Linked DNA regions of Homo sapiens: region 1 is linked to region 2. The links come from fine-mapping of genetic effects on gene expression. A gene starts in region 2. The other region holds a variant in brackets. All regions are shown on one strand. Distances are between the middles of the regions. Region 1 has its middle 55 kb from the start of THAP12. Region 2 holds the start of THAP12 (THAP domain containing 12).

What was found. PIP is the estimated chance that this variant, and not a neighbour inherited with it, causes the effect.
Region 1: its variant is fine-mapped to the expression of THAP12 in whole blood (INTERVAL, PIP 0.94).

Annotation. Positions count from the first base shown.
Region 1 is chr11:76,321,643-76,330,413 of GRCh38, forward strand. No RefSeq gene overlaps it. Among named protein-coding and RNA genes, the nearest start is that of THAP12, 55 kb to the right of the region's middle. The variant T/A (reference allele first, on the strand shown) is at 3,367.
Region 2 is chr11:76,376,276-76,385,046 of GRCh38, forward strand. THAP12 (THAP domain containing 12) reads right to left here and starts at 4,857. Exons shown (of 5, transcript NM_004705.4): 1 at 4,473-4,857. The coding sequence starts at 4,561. It overlaps GVQW3 (GVQW motif containing 3), which reads left to right and starts at 5,048. Exons shown (of 2, transcript NM_001347885.2): 1 at 5,048-6,018. The coding sequence starts at 5,554. RefSeq lists an enhancer at 4,062-4,563 and a silencer at 4,206-5,135.

The DNA.
Region 1 (8,771 bases), 55 kb before region 2:
ACTACACCTTGAATTCAGCGTTTCAACAACACACAGTATTTGGAATTTCTCCAACTGCCCCCCTGTTGGTCTTTGCATATTCTGTTCCCTCTGTCCATCATATCCGTTCATCTTTCAGAGCTTAGCTGAAATCCCTCCAGGACGCCTTCCCTGAGCCCCGGATTGAGTGGGGTGCCCTCCCCCAGCTCCCACCCTGGGTCTGTGTCTGCCTGCCCTGCCCATGCCCGCCCCACAAGGCCCACGCTTGCGCCCTCGGGCTGCGCAGGGCGAGGGTTTGGGGGCGCGGTACTGACGGGTGTCCAGGCCTCTCCTCGAAGGGTTCCGCGCGCAGAAAGGTGGGCCGGGGCCAGAAGACGCGCTGGAAAGGCGTTTTCTGCCCCCTCCGGGCCTCGGGAATATTTGTGGGCTGCCGGCGGGGCAGGCGGGGTGGGGGAGGCTGCCCGGCGGGCGGGAAGCCCCGCGCACTCGGGTCCCCTGCGGTCCCCGGCGGGGGTCGGCGCGTGCGGAAAGCGGCCCGAGCCCCCAACCTCGGCCCGTCCGCAACCGAAGAGGAGGCGACCGCAGCCTGGAAAAGAAGAGCCCCCAGCTGTTTCCTTCCACCCGGGCGGGCGGGACGGAGAAGGGAGGGAGCCTGGGAGAGACGCAGGTGTGGCGCTCGCCTGTGCTGGCGGGGTGGCAGCCGGGGCGTGGCACCCTCGGAGTCTCGACTCTGCCCACTTCTCAGGCAGAAAACTGAGGTGGTCCCATGGCCAGAGCTAAGAAAGGCAGTGCTGATTCCTGGGCCCCCGCTGCTCACAGCGTCCTTCAGCATCCCAGTAGGCCGAGGGCATCTCACTCTTAGGTGACCACAAGAATCACGGGGACAGTTGTTAAAATGCAGATTTCAAGGCCCCATCTCCCAGAGACGCAGTAGGTCTGAGATGGGACCCAGAAATCAGCTCTTTAAAACAAGGAAATAGTCCACATGTTGTGAAGCACTGGTGAAGAGATGCTTTGGAATAGGAAGCTTCCCCCTCGGCCTAGTTACAGCAGAGAGCAGAGAGCGAGGACTCGGAAGGGAGGGACTTGGACCCTGAAGCCCAGGCTTTCCTGCTGGGTGACTAACTTCTCTGTGTCTTGATTTTATCTTGCCTAAAGTGGAGATAACATTCAGCCCACAAGGTTCTGTAAAATCAAAGAGATGTGAGTAAAAGTGCTTTACTAACTTCACCACCACCATCATTATTATTCACTGTCACCGCCCATCCCCTAGGCAAGGAAAGAAGCCATCCTGAACCTGTGGGGTGATGAGCTCAGATGCTACCACCTCTGCAAAGGCAGCCCTGGTCATTTGGGAGGAAGCCCTCTTTCCTCTGAACTGAACACCACTCCTTCACCCCCATTTGGTGCTCCTTGTACGTGCCCAGGGCTGACTGCAGTACCATGTGCCATTTTTTCACCAAAATATGAGCTCTACCTTTGGGGCTCCTCAAAGTCAGCAATTATGTCAGAAGGGCTGCATGGTAGAGACCTGAGTTTAAGTCTCAGGTCTGTCATTTACTGAGAGATCTTGAAACCGCCTTTGTAAAATTATGACTGAGACAGTGAAAGAGATCTAACTTAACTGACTCCATTTTGCTTCTAACCTCCAAGCTGTCCTTGTTCATTCCTAAGCATAGATTGAACTATCTTTGGGAGAAATTTAGTTTATAGTTTATTGTTTAAACAAAGATGGTAACAGACCTTTCCCAAAGCAGACCTCCTTCTTGCCTGGGGACTAGATTGCTTTGGCAGGTCTAACATTAGCCACAAGATAAGGAATTATATGCAGCTGGAGGATACAAGATTCTGACCCTCTCTAACCTGCTCTAAGATCAGTGCTTGAGATGTTTCACAGGCCCTGCACTTGATGGATCAGCTGGCACCACCCAGATCAATAAACTGGCTCATCTGATCTTGTGGCCCCCACCCAGGAACTGACTCAGCGCAAGAAGACAGCTTCCACTCCCTGTGATTTCATCTCTGACCAATCAGCACTCCTGGCACACTGTCTTCCCCCCACCCACCAAGTTATCCTTCAAAACTCTGCTCCCCAATGCCTGGGGAGACTGATTTGAGTAATAATAAAACTCTGGTCTCCCGCACAGCCAGCTCTGCATGAATTACTCTTTCTCTATTGCAATTCCCCTGTCTTGAAGAATCGGCTCTGTCCAGGCAGTGGGCAAGGTGAACCCCTTGGACTGTTACAATCTCAGTAAATGTAAACTGTCAGTTTACTGAGATCTCTCAGTAAACTGCCCCCGTTATTCTTGGGGCCACCAAAGAGTGAGCTGCCCTTGGCCTACTGTGATGCCAAAGGGCGCCGTGAGCAGCGGGGGCCCAGGAATCAGCACCGCCTTTCTTAGCTCTGGCCATGGGACCACCTCAGTTTTCCACCTGTGAAGTGGTCAGGAAGGCTGTGGGATCTTGATCAGTGCATCCACCTCTCCAAAAGTCTATCACTTTAGAGTGTAAAGGTTTAAATGGAATAATGTCTATAAAGTACTGTAATGTCTATCACTCAGTTGGCCTAACTTGAATAAAACAAATACAAGCTGGGCAGTCTGAGGAAGGCATCGCAAGGAGTGGCTTTTGACCTGGGCTTTTAGAGCCAGGAGTCTTAATAGGTAAAGAACTGGTGGGGAAGGGCCCCTCTAGGCCCTTTTCCATATTCTGGTTACAGTCTCTGTTAATGTTTATAACTTTAAACAGAGACTTCCTGCTCTGAAATGTGTTGTTACTGCCCATTTAAAAATTGAACTAGAATAAAGATAGCAAGCGGAACTCGCACTATGGTCTTCCCTGAAACCAACTAAAACAACACTAAAGGGATTTATCATAATATTGGAAACCAGACACAGCCAACAAAGAATGGTAATTGATTAAATCCTAAAAGGCAATAAAGAAAGTTGAAAATCAGCCCAATTTACACTGTTAAACCCCCAAATGGTTCAGGAGTTGGTTGTACCAGGTACCTCTGGAAAGTGGGTGGGTCGGAGGTGGGCGGGGTGGAGGCTAAAAACAGAAAGATTGCTTGGAAAACAATCAGACTTCCAGATACTCTCTCTCCTGGCAAAATACTAATACTCCAGACAGGATACACAGAATGCTTCAGGCAGGAGATTGGAGGAGCTTTTCTTTTGACTAGCACAAAATAAAAGACATGGAATGGCCCAATCATGTGCACAGCCCCAATCATGTTCAGAGGGTATCAAATCTGTTTTAGTGTCTCATTCTTAAATATGAGCAGACAGCAAAGGATGAGTAAGCATTTGAGAAAAGCCTCTAATTAAAAAAGAAGTCAAAAGAATAGGGGGAAACAACAAAGGAACTTAGAAGCTGGCAACT[T/A]TGCAAAAAGCTGAAAACTTAAAACTATAATTAACATCCTAAGAAATAAGATATTGCTGCAAAATGGGGAAATGTCTCCAAAATTCTGAAGAAAGTTATATTTCCATCCCAGAAAGTTATATTTCCACCCAGCCAACTGATGATCAAGGGTGAAGAGAGAATACATTTCTAGTCATGTGAATTATCTTTGCATGTTTCCTGAGGAAGCTTCTGGAGGATGTGCTTCAACAGAAGTGAGGGAGTTAACCAAGAAAGAGGAAAACATGGCATCCAAGGAAAAGAAAATGTAACAAAGGATAGGGGCAAAGGAATCCCCAGGCCATTCTATTCTATTGTGCAATAGAAGACAATTCATCCTAATGGGACATGGTGGAAGACTCTGGGAGGGACTTCTTCAGGAAGATGAAATCAGTAGACTAGCCAATGCATTTAAACATATTGAAAGGAGATATGCATAACCACAATTGTTATGCAGGGAAGGAAAAATAATTATAGAATACTACACGGCCCAGTTGTCAATAGCATTTACGTAGCCTAATAATGAAAACATGAATACTGTTCCAATCAAACTTGTGATACTAGGTGGAAGTAGGGAGACACAAAATGTACATGTGAGTGTGGAGAAAGTAAGGGGAAAGAGAGAGAGAAAGAGAAAGAAACTGAAAAATCAAGAAGTAGTAGTATAAGCAAATAATTTAGAGTCAAAAGCAGTGACACAGAGAGACTGCTCAATAAAATATTTGCTGAATGCATGAATGGTCAACACCTAGTGAGGGCCAGGCACATATTTATTGAGCATAATAGTACTTAAGACTTACTGAACAGAAAGGGTCTTCTTCCTTAGAATCACCTTGGTCTGTGTTTGGGTACAAAGCAAGTCCTTGACAAATGTGCATTGCCTTGGTTGAGCGGATGTGGCCTCCTGGATTCCCAGCCTGTTGTGTGATTTTGAACAACTTTCATAGCCTTTCACAAAGGTGCCAGGGTTTCTCCATTATCAATAGGGAAAAAAACGGTCAGAGGATGCTTCCTGGGTCTCAGAGCTGTGACTTGAGAATTGAGTGGGGGAGAGGGGATGGCAATGGTGATGCACAACATGCACCTGAGGATTCCTAGGTGTCCGGAAGACCTGCCCCTGGGGTGGGTGGGTGGAAGGGAAAAGTAATGGCTGATGAAAAGAGGCTGCGAGAGAGGCCTGAATGGGAGGAATGATTCATCCTCCAGCATCTCCCATCCAAAGCCACTCCTCCTCACTGCCCCTTGGCTCTGGCATCAAGCAGCCAACTCTGCTGAATCTGGAGGGGATGTTTTGGCCGGATTCTTCCTATCTCTTGAGATGGGGTGAAGTGGGCCCCTGGCCCACGTCTGCTTCCCTCTGGTTGGTGTGTCACAGAAGATAATGGCTCCAAGGGCTCCAGCAGCACTGCGTGGAACATTATTAGATCGGCTAGCCCAGAACATCTCCAAATTCTAGATTTTACCAACTGGTAAAATTTAAATGAAGAGGAGGTGACCAGCGTAAAGTTACCAGCTTTTTTAGTTTGCTAAAAAAACCAAAACAAACAAACAAAACAAAACAAACAAACAAAAAACATTAGAAAAAGAACTATCATGATGTTCTGTGGTTCCATGGTGTGTTCACTTAGTGGTAAGGCATCAAGCTGTACATTTAGGAGTCTGATTATTCTGAATACATATTAGACTTTGTGAAAAGTTTACTCGAAAAATATCATGTACTAGGCTGGGCGTGGTGGCTTACCCCTGTAATCCCAGCACTTTGGGAGGCCAAGGTGGGCAGATCAGCCAGAAGTTCAAGGTCAGGAGTTTGAGACCAGCCTGGCCATCTTTACTAAAACTACAAAAATTAGCCAGGCATGATGGTAGGTGCCTGTAATCCCAGCTACTCAGGAGGCTGAGGCCAGAGAATTGCTTGAGCCCAGGAGGCAGAAGTTGCAGTGAGCCGAGATCGCACCACTGCACTCCAGCCTGGGAGACAGAGCAAGACTCCATCCTCCATCTCAAAAAATTTTAAAAAAAGAAAAAAAGAAAAACTGTCGTGTACTATTGCACCACTACTTCATCTAAAATAAATTTTTGATGCCCAAAATGGGAAAAGCGTAATCTCAATAGAGTCCAGTTTGTCCTTATGAAAAGGCAGTGAACAGTGAATGGTAGGTGAAATTACAATAGTATGCTTTACATGTGTGATAGTAACATTCTAGGGGAGAAAGCCAAAAGTGTCATTTCACAATATCACTCACACATTGGTTTTTGTCAATTGAGGGATTCAGATGTGAAGTGGAATCCTATATCTAGCTTGTTCTTAAGCTTTATCATAGTTGTTGAGAAAAATCCAGTTTCACTCGGTTATCTTAAGGGAAGTGGAAGCCACACCCAGTGTAGTTCCACTGAATTTCTAATGTTCTCTGACTTCTGAGAGAGGCTGAGAACAAAGACAGCAGCTGCCAGCCCCTGCTCTCCCTACCACTGGAAAGGCCAGAGGCCAGGTGAGGGGGACTCACAGCCATTGGGCACCCTGATCACCAGGCACAGAATAGTCAGATCTTTATTTGAAAGGGATGCTATAGACCAAGACGACCCTGGCCAGTCCATCTGTAAGCACTTAGGGACCTTCTGTCAGTCTCCCTTTTATGAGAACTGAGGTCCGGAGTGAGGAGGTGATACATTCAAAGACACACAGCAAGTTAGTGAAGAGCTGGAGCTAGAACCTGGCCTGCCAGCCCTGTGTTCTCCCCATGCACCCTGGCTCAGGAGCTCCTGGTGGCCACCCTCCTTGACCTTGAAAACTGCTCACTGCCATGTTGGAGGTAAACTCTTCAGAGCTCCGGCTCTGGTGGCCAGAGCTGGGCTGGTGCTGGGCTGCAGGGAATCGAGTTACCTAGTTGGAGAGGATCCCTCAGGAGCCAGCCTCTCTCCAGTTGGCAAGAGGACAACTTGGCGAGGCTGGGCTCATAGAAGATGCCAGAGCTGCTACAATGGAGGGCTTCAACCATCCAACACCTCCTTCAGGGCTGCTGTCACCAAACCCAAGCTGACACCCTGGCTCTGGGCAGAGGCTGGCGGGTGTGGGTGGAGGAGGGAAGGTTGTTAGGAAGGCTCTGCCAGGCGGAGGGAGGGGGTTGGCTTCTGCAAAATGGGCCTCTTTCCCGCCTGGTGGGCTTTGCTCACTCTTGCCTCCTCGCTGCTTCTCTCTCCTCATGGACACGCCCAGTTTCCTCCGATTGCACAAAGCCTCTTTGATGAATGATGCCACAAAGAGGCTGCTTCAGGGGACCCAGGGTTTGGCCCACTCTTTGGGCCTTCCCACCCAATCTGTGAAATGGCCAATTGTGAGTATATGAATATACTCAGCTCTGACAGGGAACCTTTCAGAGGAGCACCATGGTTAAGGAGCTCCCAAATGAGGGCATGGGCCCATAGCAGCCCAGGTGGCCCCATTCCTACCCTGAGTGGAGGGGTAGGGACCCTTAATTTCTGTAACACAAGTCAGAGACACTCAAAGCAGGAAGAAGTCTGGTCAACCATATGTTTCAGGTGCCTTGAAAGTCTCAATATTTGTTGAATGGGCGAATGAATAAAGTTCAGCTTAAGACTTTTTTTTTTTTTTGAGACAGAGTCTCACTCTGTCACCCAGACTGGAGTGCAGTGGCGCGATCTCGGCTCGCTGCAACCTCCACCTCCTGGGTTTAAGCGATTCTCCTGCCTCAACCTCCAGAGTAGCTGGGACTATAGGCACACGCCACCATGCCCTGCTAATTTTTGTATTTTTGGTAGAGACGGGGGTTTCACCATGTTGGCCAGGCTGGTCTCGAACTCCTGACCTCAGGTGATCCACCTGCCTCAGCCTCCCAAAGTGCTGGGATTACAGGTGTGAGCCACCATGCCTGGCCAAGACTATTTTAAAGAAAGATGCCACTGCTGAACAGTAAAATCAAAGACCTCATTTAACAGCCCTCATCTGACAGAAGAGAAACATGCCCGGTGAAGGGCCCTTCTTGCTGACATTTCCAAGTAACACAAGGGACCAGGCAGGCGTCCCAAGCCCAGGTGTCTGATGGCTGCTCTTCTGCTGAGTGAGAGTCCCCCAGGACCCCGCTCCAGGGCCTGGGCTCACTACTCCATAAGCAGCCCCACTGCTTGCCGGCAGATCTGCAGCTTCCGCAGACACTTCCAGCTTTCAGTTCCTTGAACATTCCTGTCATTCCTTGGGCAAACCCACTCTACTCCACATTTCTTTGAACTTCCCCGACTTCCCTGACCCTCTGCGACTAGCTGTGTGACCCTGGGCAAGTTGCTCAACTTCTGCAAGCTTGAGCCTCCACATCATGAAAGCGAGAGAAGCATTACTGACCCCGAAGGGCTGCTGTGAGGCCCACAGCTCCAGCTGAGAAAGTGCATGATAAAGTCAACATGATGGGACCTTCACTCTGTGCCAGACATGTGCAAGACAGGGTTATGTCCTGCACAAAGCAGTGTAGGGGTTAAGCACAGATTAGATTCACAGGTGGGGCCAACCTGAGTTAGAATTCTAGCCCTACCACTGACTCACTGTGTAAACCTGGGCGAGTCCCCTTAGCCTTTCTAGGACTCTCTTTTCTTGTCTGTAAAATGGAGACAATAATACCTACTGTTGCTTAAAGGATGAAAAGGGAACCCCATAAACGAAGTGCCCTGCCCAATGCCCAGCATACAGCAGGTGCTCAGTGAAGGGCCACCTCCACGCACCTCCTTCTCCATGAAGTCCCCAGCAGGCTGGTCCTGCAGGTCCCCCAGTGATCTAGAGTCCCAAGTGTGAGCACTGGCCCCTGCTGCTTTGTAAGTCCTCTGCCCAAAGCTGTGGAGTCCTACTTGGGTCTAACTGGGAACACCAAAGTAAAGAGGAATGAGGGGGCCCCAGGATGGAGAGTTTGGAGTGGGGCTGCTGTGTAGGATGGCAGCCAGCAGGCCTGGCCCTGAACCCCAGGGCCACCACCTTTTTAAATCAGATCCTTCCCTCCAAGCAAGCAAACAATCTGGCTCTGGCGGAGGCCCTGGTCAAGCACAGCAGAACCTTTGTGAGCTCTTGACTCTCCCCCTGCCTCCCCACTTCATCCTTGTCATCGCCTGCAGGGAGCTCTGGGGGTGGTGCTTTGGGCAGGGGAGCAGCTGGTAGGCTGCTGGCTTAGCCTGATGTTAAAGGCCTGAGGGGCTGGTCTCACCCTCTAGCCACATCTCCCTCCAGCCCCCTCCTCCCCTCCCAGGCTGCCGCTTGGTCTTTGCAGGCATAGTTGTCTCTCCCTTTGATACTCTGGAGAGGTAGAACTGAAGTGGAGGCTAGGGCTGTGGAAGGGCAGGGAGAGGTCTTCGTTGCAAGAGAGGCCAGACTTGTCCTCACGCCCTTTGCT
Region 2 (8,771 bases):
ATGTGAATTGCATCTCAATAAACATCTTTTTAAAAAGAAATTCATGATTTGGTCTTGAAGCATTCAAAGGAGTCTAACGTTGAAAAGGGCAGAGACTTCGTGTGATCCTGGGAACAAAACTAGGACCTCCAAGGCCTCAATTACAGGAGGCAGATGTCCACTCAATACAAGGAAGAAACAACAGCCAAAGCGTCCAGAATCATCACGTGTCTTCTCACAAAGGGGAGGACTATCATTAGAGGTGTTTTAGCAAGGGCAAAGATGCCCATCTGTCAGGAATGCACAGGGCCTATAAAGGCCCATAAACATCTTTGTCTTCGAATGCTAAATTGTGTCTATGTTTTTTTTGTTTTTTTTTTTTTTTCAGGTAAGAGTCCTTATGCTAGATTCTCAAAAGGGATAATAACCCTAAAAATGATAAAAGTCACTATTATTGAGAAAATTCCAGTATTTCAAGTGAGATTTCACTAGATCTAAACACTTCTTTCAAATCTGAAACTGTAAACCCCTATAGACTATACTCCCCTTAAGGAGTGTAGTCAAAACAGGATTCACTACATATTAATACAAATGACCTGTGGTCCAGAACTGACTAGGGGTGCCCTCATTATGGAAGTGAAATAAACCTGTAAGAATGTCTTTGGGCTAAAATTTGGGTAAAAGGAAGATAACGCATAATGGGGCAAGGCCAAGTCAGACTAAGATGCTCCTCTCCTCTGTTCCCAACTGCTACTCCTCACTGTACTGAGCGAGTTCTTTCCCATGTCTCGGAACTTAAAACACTGGGAATGCCCCAGGACTCAATCCTCAGATCTGTTCTTTGCTCACTCCTTAGATAACCTTAACCCGTACCACGGTTTTAAATACCCTCTATAAACTGAGAACACCCATATTTACAATTTCCGGTTTGAAAGTCTCTGAATTTCAGACTTGTATATCCTATTCTCTCTTCAAGACATCTATTTTCTTTGAGGTGAAATTCTCATAACATAAAACTAACCATTTTAAAGTAAAAAACTAATGGCAATTAACACATTCATCATGTTCTGCAACCATCACCACTACCTAATTCTAAAACATTTTCATCACCTCAAAAGGAAACCTTGTAACCATTAATCAGTTGCTCCCCACTCTCCCTTTCGCCCAGCCCCAGGCAACCACTGATATGCTTTCTATCTCTATGGATTTACTTATTCTGGATATTTAATATAATAGAATCATACAACATATAAGCTTTTGTATCTGACTTCTTTCACTTAGCATAATGTTTCTGAGGTTCACCCATACTGTAGTATGTACTGGCACTTCATTCCTTTTCATGGCTAATATTTCATTGTATTGATATACATTTTGTTTATCCATTCAAGCACTGATAAACGTGGCTTGTTTCTACCTTTTGACTATTGCGAATAGTGCTGCTATGAATGTGTGTACATTTGGTTTTTTTGAATATCAGTTTGCAATTCTTTGGATATACGCCTAGGAATGGAATTGCTGGGACACACAGTAATTCTACATCTAACTGCCACTTGTGGTTTTGATTTGAACTTCTCTAATAACGAGTGATGCTCAGCATCTTTTCATGTGCTTTTTAGCCATTTATATCTTCTGTTTAAAGAAAGAAGTCCTTTGCCTATTTTAAAATTGGGTTGTCTTTTTGTTGCTGAATTGTAAGAGTTCTTTATATATTCTGGATACTGGACCCAGATCAAATGTATTATTTGCAAGTACCTTCTTCCATTCTTTTCACTTTCTTGGTAATGTTCTTTGATACACAAAAGTTTAATTTTGATGAAGTCCAATTAGTCTATTTTTCTTTTTACTGCATGTATTTTGGTGTCATATCTAAGAATGTGGTGCCAGCCAAGCACGGTGGCTTACACCTGTAATCCCAGCACTTTGGGAGGCCAAGGCGGGCAGATCACCTGAGATCAGGAGTTCGAGACCAGCCTGGCCAACATGGCGAAACCCCGTCTTGACTAAAAAAAAATACAAAAATTAGCCAGGCATGGTGGCGGATGCCTGCAATCCCAGCTACCTGGGAGGCTGAGTGAGTAGAATAGTTTGTGAACATCGGTGGCAGAGGTTGCAGTGAGCTGAGACTGTGCCACTGCACTGCAGCCTGGGCAACAGAGTGAGACTCTCAAAAAAAACAAAAAACAAACAAGAATGTGCTGCCAAATCTAAAGTCATGAAGATTTATCTGTATTTTTTTCCTAAAAGTTTAATGACATAGCTCTTATATTTAGGCCTTTGATCTCAATAAAAGTATAGGCCATTTGGAGTTCATTTCTGTATATGGTATGAAGAAAGACATCTATTCTTTTTTTTTTTTCATCTATTCTTTCTTTCTTGAGACGGAGTCTTGTTCTGTCACCCTGACTGGAGTGCAGTGGCACGATCTCGGCTCACTGCAACCTCTGCCTCCTGGGTTCAAGCGATTCTCACGTCTTGGCCTCCTGAGTAGCTGGACAGGCACGCACCACTGGGCTCAGCTAATTTTTGTATTTTTTAATAGAGACAGGGTTTCCCTATGTTGGCCAGGCTGGTCTCGAACTCCTGACCTCAAGTGATCCGCCTGCTTAGGCCTCCCAAAGTGCTGGGATTACAGGTGTGAGCCACCATGCCCGGCCTAGACATCTATTCTTGAATGTCTATCAGGTCTCTCAAACCCAAACTTCTAGTATTCCTCTACCAAACCTGCTCTTCCCAGTCTTCCCTATCTCAGCAAATGCTCACGTTAAAAATCTTGAAGTCGGCTGGGCGCGGTGGCTCAGAGCCTGTTCTAGCACTTTGGGAGACCGACACAGGAGGACTGCTTGAAGCCAGGAGTTCAAGACCAACCTGGCCAACATAGATTTTTAAAATCTTGAAGTCGTCCTTAAGTTCTCTTTTTCTTTTACAATCTACCTCCAAACCATTAGCAAATGATGTTGGCTTCACCTTCAAACCATATCTCAAATTTACCATCTCCTCCTCTATTAATCTGGATTATTACAACAGCCTTTTAACTGGTCTTCCGGCTTTCACCTTTGCCTCCCCACAATCTAATGAGCAGCCACTGATCCTGTTAAAATTTAAGTCTCTGCTCTAAACCCTTCAATGACTTCCTATTTCACTCATAATAAAAACCATAGTGCCTTCCAAGACCTACAAGGTCCTACCTAAAGAATTTGCCCCTACCATACACACACCTTTCTGGTCTCATCTCACCTCTCTCCCAGTCCCTCTCCCTGGACTCCTGGTTGCCCTGTCTTTGCCTTCTTTGGAATGCTGCTGCCCAAGGTATCTCCATGGCTGGCCCCTTCACCTGGTCTTTGCTCAAATTCACCTTCTTAGTGAGGCCTTCTCTAATCACTGTATTTAAAATAGCAATTGTGCGTCCCTTGATACTACTTATTCCCCTACCCTCTAACCTTTGTTTATTTTTCTCCACAGTATTTATCATCATCCGACACACTACGTATTTTACTTGTTTATTCCCCCCCCATTAGAATGTAATCTTCATGAAAGCAAGGACTTCGATTTGTTCATCTGTAACCCCCACTGCTCACAACAATGCCAACACAAGTAGACCTTCAATAATTAATTGAACTAATTAATAAATAACATAAATTATAGTCGCCCGTTGCTGCACCTGTTCCCTTACTGGACTGAGAGCTTTCTGCAAGCAGTGACACCCTTATTCACCCATGAACTCCCAGCACCTAACATTTGCGCTCGGCACATAGTAGGCATTGATTTTAAATGAATGAACCAACAAGACAGGCCTATGAAACATCTCAGCCTTTCAAACACAGTCCCTATGCTATCATTCCCTAAATATGTCAGTGTGTGGGGGTTATCCGAAGGAAGAGGTTCCAATACCAATTTCCACGCCCTCACGCGTACACCCTCTGTTATCCCTACAATACCCAAGCGAGAAAATGAGTAACGGTGACAGCCAGAAAATGAATCCTGAACCGTGCAATGACAAGTCCGAAGGAGAAAGCAGTTGCGATGAGATGAAAGAAGGTAGCGGGACTCAAAACAGAAACACTGTCCCGGGGGTGGTGGCAAGGAGAGGGAAAGGCCCCAGTGGCCACAACCATAGAGTCCTGCTCTCTTTTGACAGCTAAGGAAACTAACGCCCAGAGAGGAAAGCGACTCCCCCGAGGTCACACAGCAAGTGAGCCACGGCGAGAACCCACAGCATCCCGCGTCCGCGCGCCGCCCCAGCTCCCTCGCGTTTGGGGTGGTGTCCTCCGCGCAGAGCCCCCACCAGCGCACGTGCTCCGAGGTCCCCGGACGCCCGCCCGCCCACGGCTCGGGGCCGGCTCCCCATCTCGGTCCAACGCTGGGGTCGACGGCAGTGCGCTGCGCCCGCCTCCTGCGCCCCTCTCAGCCAGCCCGGGAGCCCGCCAGGGGCCGGCGGCTGGCAGCGCTCACCGCGAAGGTGGGCCCGGGCCGCCCGCTCTGCGCCCGCCGCTTACCTGGCAGGGTCCCGCGGGAACCTGAAGAAGGCCAAGTCGGACTGCGTGCTCTTCCGCGTGCAGTTGGGGGCAGCGCAGAAGTTCGGCATCGTCGCCCGCCCGCCGGCCGGCCCAGCCCTCCCCTCCCCGCCTCCTCAGGGCAGTCCGCCCGCCCGTCGGGGCCGGGGAGGGGAGCCAGGCCGGCCGGCCGGCTCGGCAGGGCCGACGCGCGGGGGAGGGGCGGGCGGGCTAGAAGCCGCGAGGGCCAGGAGGGGTGCCGCGGTCCGAGGCCGGGCTGGGGACGCGGCTCCACAGTGCTGTGAGCGGCCGGGAGGATTTACCGCCGCCGCCGCCGCTGGTGCACCTCCCGCCCGCCCGAGACGCTGCCGCCTCCTTCCCACAATGCACCCTGACGCCCGGGGGTGCCCTCTCTTCCCTCAGCCTTCCTCCCCCGCCCCTCCTTTCCGCCTTCTCAGCAGGCGGGCACGCGCAAGGAAGCGCGCCTGCCGGGGTGTGGCGAGGCGGAGGCGGGACCTGGCGCGCGCCGCCGCAGTGCGACTGCGCACAGTCTAATCCGCGGGGAGAGAGAATTGCGCATGCGCGCCTGTCTCCCGGGACGCTAGAGCAGGCGGTTCCTGGGCTGCTCCGGTAGGTTTGGCGTGCGCGGGTTTCTGCAGATCTAGGGCGAGCTTGCACGTTACATCACCGATGCATCTCTTCTTGCTTGCTTAATTTGCCACCACTTAGGCCTTTCTTGCAGAATTCGCCATATACTCCTTAAGGGCCGCGGAATCGGAGCGACCTTGGTGACTGGCAAACTCTCGGCAGATGTGCGTGCACTGGTTTGATGCAGACGTGGTTGTAGGCGATTTAATTTTTCCCAGCTTTGCAGCGACTGTTGGCTTCCCAGAACGGATCTCCCCAGCCTCGACTGGAAGCTGAGGGACAAAAATTCATAAAAGCAATTACTCTTTCCCGGCGAGGCTTCTAGAAGAGCAAGAAGAGCGATATGATTACACCTGCAGCCCTATAAAGATTGATCTGTCCGTCTTTCCCTTACAGTCGTGGCCTGTTAAACGTTCCTGTGTTGTTCAGTGCCAGAATGAGTGACCGCTATTTAGAACAAAGGATTAGTATCAAATTTTGCGTGAAATTGAACAAGTCTGCAAGTGAGACCCACCATCTTTTAAAAGAAGCTTATGGGGATGAAGTCATGTCAAGGGCCAGAGTTTTTGACTGGCACAAAAGGTTTAAAGAAGGACGGGAAGATGTTCGAGATGATGCCCGAAGTGGGCGTCCAGTCACCCACCGAACAGATGACAATATCCAGAAGGTCAAGGACTTGGTTTGTTCAAACAGGCAGTTAACCGTGAGGATGATGGCTGAAGAGTTAAATTTAGACAAAGAAACTGTTAGGCTCATTTTGAAAGAAAACTTGAACATGAGGAAGATTTCTGCAAAAGTTATTTCGGGTGTTTTGAAGGGTGAGCCTAAACCACGAAAACTTGACTTTCGGTCCGATCTTTCAAAGGAAACTAGGAAAAATAGCTCATGTTTGAGGAAAAAGGTAACAGGTTCTGAAACATGGAGTTATCTCCAGGGTGAAGCTGGTGGGGAAATGCCCCTGCCGGTATCCCATCCCAGAGTCCACTACTCTGCCAGTCAGCTTCTGCAGGCGTCATCTTCAACAAGCCTTCCCCCCAGGGTAGCTGAGAATTGGTTCACCCCATGGTGAGAGGAATGTGAGTTAGCTGAACCAGAACTAGGATGCTGCCTCACTGTTAGGCACCTTCTTTGGCTGCTCACGTATTTTTCAGTCTTCACCACTCCTCCCTATGTGCCATGGCCCTCCTCATTACTCTTTGCTGGACTCTTGGACCATTTTCCTTGCTGTTCTCCATAACTTTGAAAAACTTTTGGCTGTTCCCTTCTGGTATTTGCTTGTTCTTGATTTCTTTTGCTCAACAAGTTTGGATTTCTTCTCTGCCCAGACCTTAGCTTGTTGTGGCTGTCCTGTTCCTTTGTTCTCAACCTTCTGCCTCAGAGGATCATGCCAGTGAGAAGAGAGGAACAGGATCTCCTGGAATCTGTATCTCTGTGCCCAGGGAAGCATGCTTTTCTGGGAGGACCCCAAAAGAAGGCTTACAGTTTCAGCCTGCTTTGCAGTCAGGGCCTGAGGTATGGTACAGAAGGTAGTAGCATGCTGGTATTACTGAACAGTGCTGGGCCTAGGGGCTGATCTGGCCCAGATGACTCAGTAGGCACCCTTAGGAATCAGGGGTTGGCCACCAATACTGATCTTCTCACAGGCCTACACCTCACAGAAGAGCTGGGTTTGTTTCATTCTAGTCCTATGCTTTGGACCTCCACTCATTTGGGTATCACCCCTGTTGGAAGAGGAGGATCTGGTGCTAGAAAATATAAACCCGGGGACCCAGGCAAGGCTGTGTTGTGTGGGGAGGAAGACCAGGTGGCTCTCTAGTCCCTGAATTAAGGGAGCCTGCTGCCTATGTGCGGATTCCCACACAGCAGCCTGTTTTTAGTAACTAATGCCTATAGTTTTGAGAACTTGCTGTTTTTAGGACACTGCTGGGCATTGACAATGTGGAGGTTATGAACAAGATCTCCAAGGGCTGATGGGCTTCATGGATGAGATGGTTCTTGAACTGGATCCATGAGGATGGGTGAGACAGGGCTGTGAAATTAGGGAAAGCTTCCGGGGCAGGTGGAACAGCATGAGGCTTCCAACCTGCATCAGTAGAAAATGACACTGGCCAGGTGTGGTGAATCACGCCTGTAATCCCAGCACTTTGGGAGACTGAGGTGGGTGGATCACAAGGTCAAGAGATCGAGACCATCCTGGCCAACATGGTGAAACCCCGTCTCTACTAAAAATACAAAAATTAGCTGGGCGTGGTGGTGCACACCTGTAGTCCCAACTACTCAGGAGGCTGAGGCAGGAGAATCTGTTGAACCCGGAAGGCAGAGGTTGCAGTGAGTGGAGATTGCGCCACTGTACTCCAACCTGGCGACAGAGCTAGACTCTGTCCCAAAAAAAAAAAAAAGGAATTAGAAAATGATGACACTATTGGCTAAAATAACAAAGTTTAAAGAGGAAGATAATGGTGTTGCAGCAGATGAACAATTTGGGATAATTTGCTTTCTCTCCTAAGCCTCCAACTCTATGCCACTTGTTGTTAAATTGCTTCCCCTGAGTCTGTGAATAGGTTTGTAACAACCAATTTGATATCTGATTTTCCATTTGGACCCCGACAAGCAGTTTCTGCAAGTTCAAACTCTGTCTCTTCTCTTCCTGCCTCTGCCAGGATTTATGGAATGGAACTTTTCCCAAGTGGGTTCCAAGTAATACCACATAGACTGGAAACATTCAGGGGGCAGGGGTTTGGTAATAGCATTTCACAGAATTGGCCAGTCTTTGTTTTACTCAAGGATTTTTAGATATAACAGCTCCTCTTAAACAATATTGCTTGATAGTAGAGGCACAACACTCATTCATCACAGTTACTTTTAGTGCTGTTCTTTCACTTTCTCTACTCACCTCCAAAAATTACAAGTTCCTCATTAACACCTGTTTTTGTTTTGTTTTGTTTTTTGAGATGGAGTCTTGCTCTGCTGCCCAGGCTGGAGTGCAGTGGCACGATCTCAGCTCACTACAACCTCCGCCTCCCAGGTTCAAGTGTTTCTCCTGACTCAGCCTCCTGAGTAGCTGGGATTACAGGTGCATGCTGCTACACCCGGCTATTTTTTGTATTTTTAGTAGAGGCGGGGTTTCACCATGTTGGCCAGGCTGGTCTTGAACTTCTGACCTCAGGTGATCCACCCACCTCGGCGTCCCAAAGTGCTGGGATTACAGGCGTGAGCCACCACGCCGGGTCAACACCTGTTAGTTTTGAGACACCTTGAAAGCTAGACGTTGTCCCACAAAGAGAAGATACTGTGTAAGAAAACTCTTAAACCAAACAACAGCTTATAGACCTCCAGCTCCTTAACAGTTTCTAGACATTCCATTTCAGGACAATGAAGTCTTCCTACATCAGATGCGGCTCTAGGTTGCCCACAAGCACTTGGCACCAGGGACACTGCACTTTAGGAACAAAGTCCCCACCACTAGTTCTTGCAGCTTTGTTGCTGAACCTCATAGTAATCCTTGCTAAGGCCTACCCAGTGGTAATTGTTGCAGATTTATATGCTCCTGGTCCCAGGCCAGGATCCCACAACCATACCTACAGGAGTTGTTTCTAACCTGTTATTAAACAGAGGTCCTGAGACAACTTACTTCTGGATTTTATTCCAGTCCTA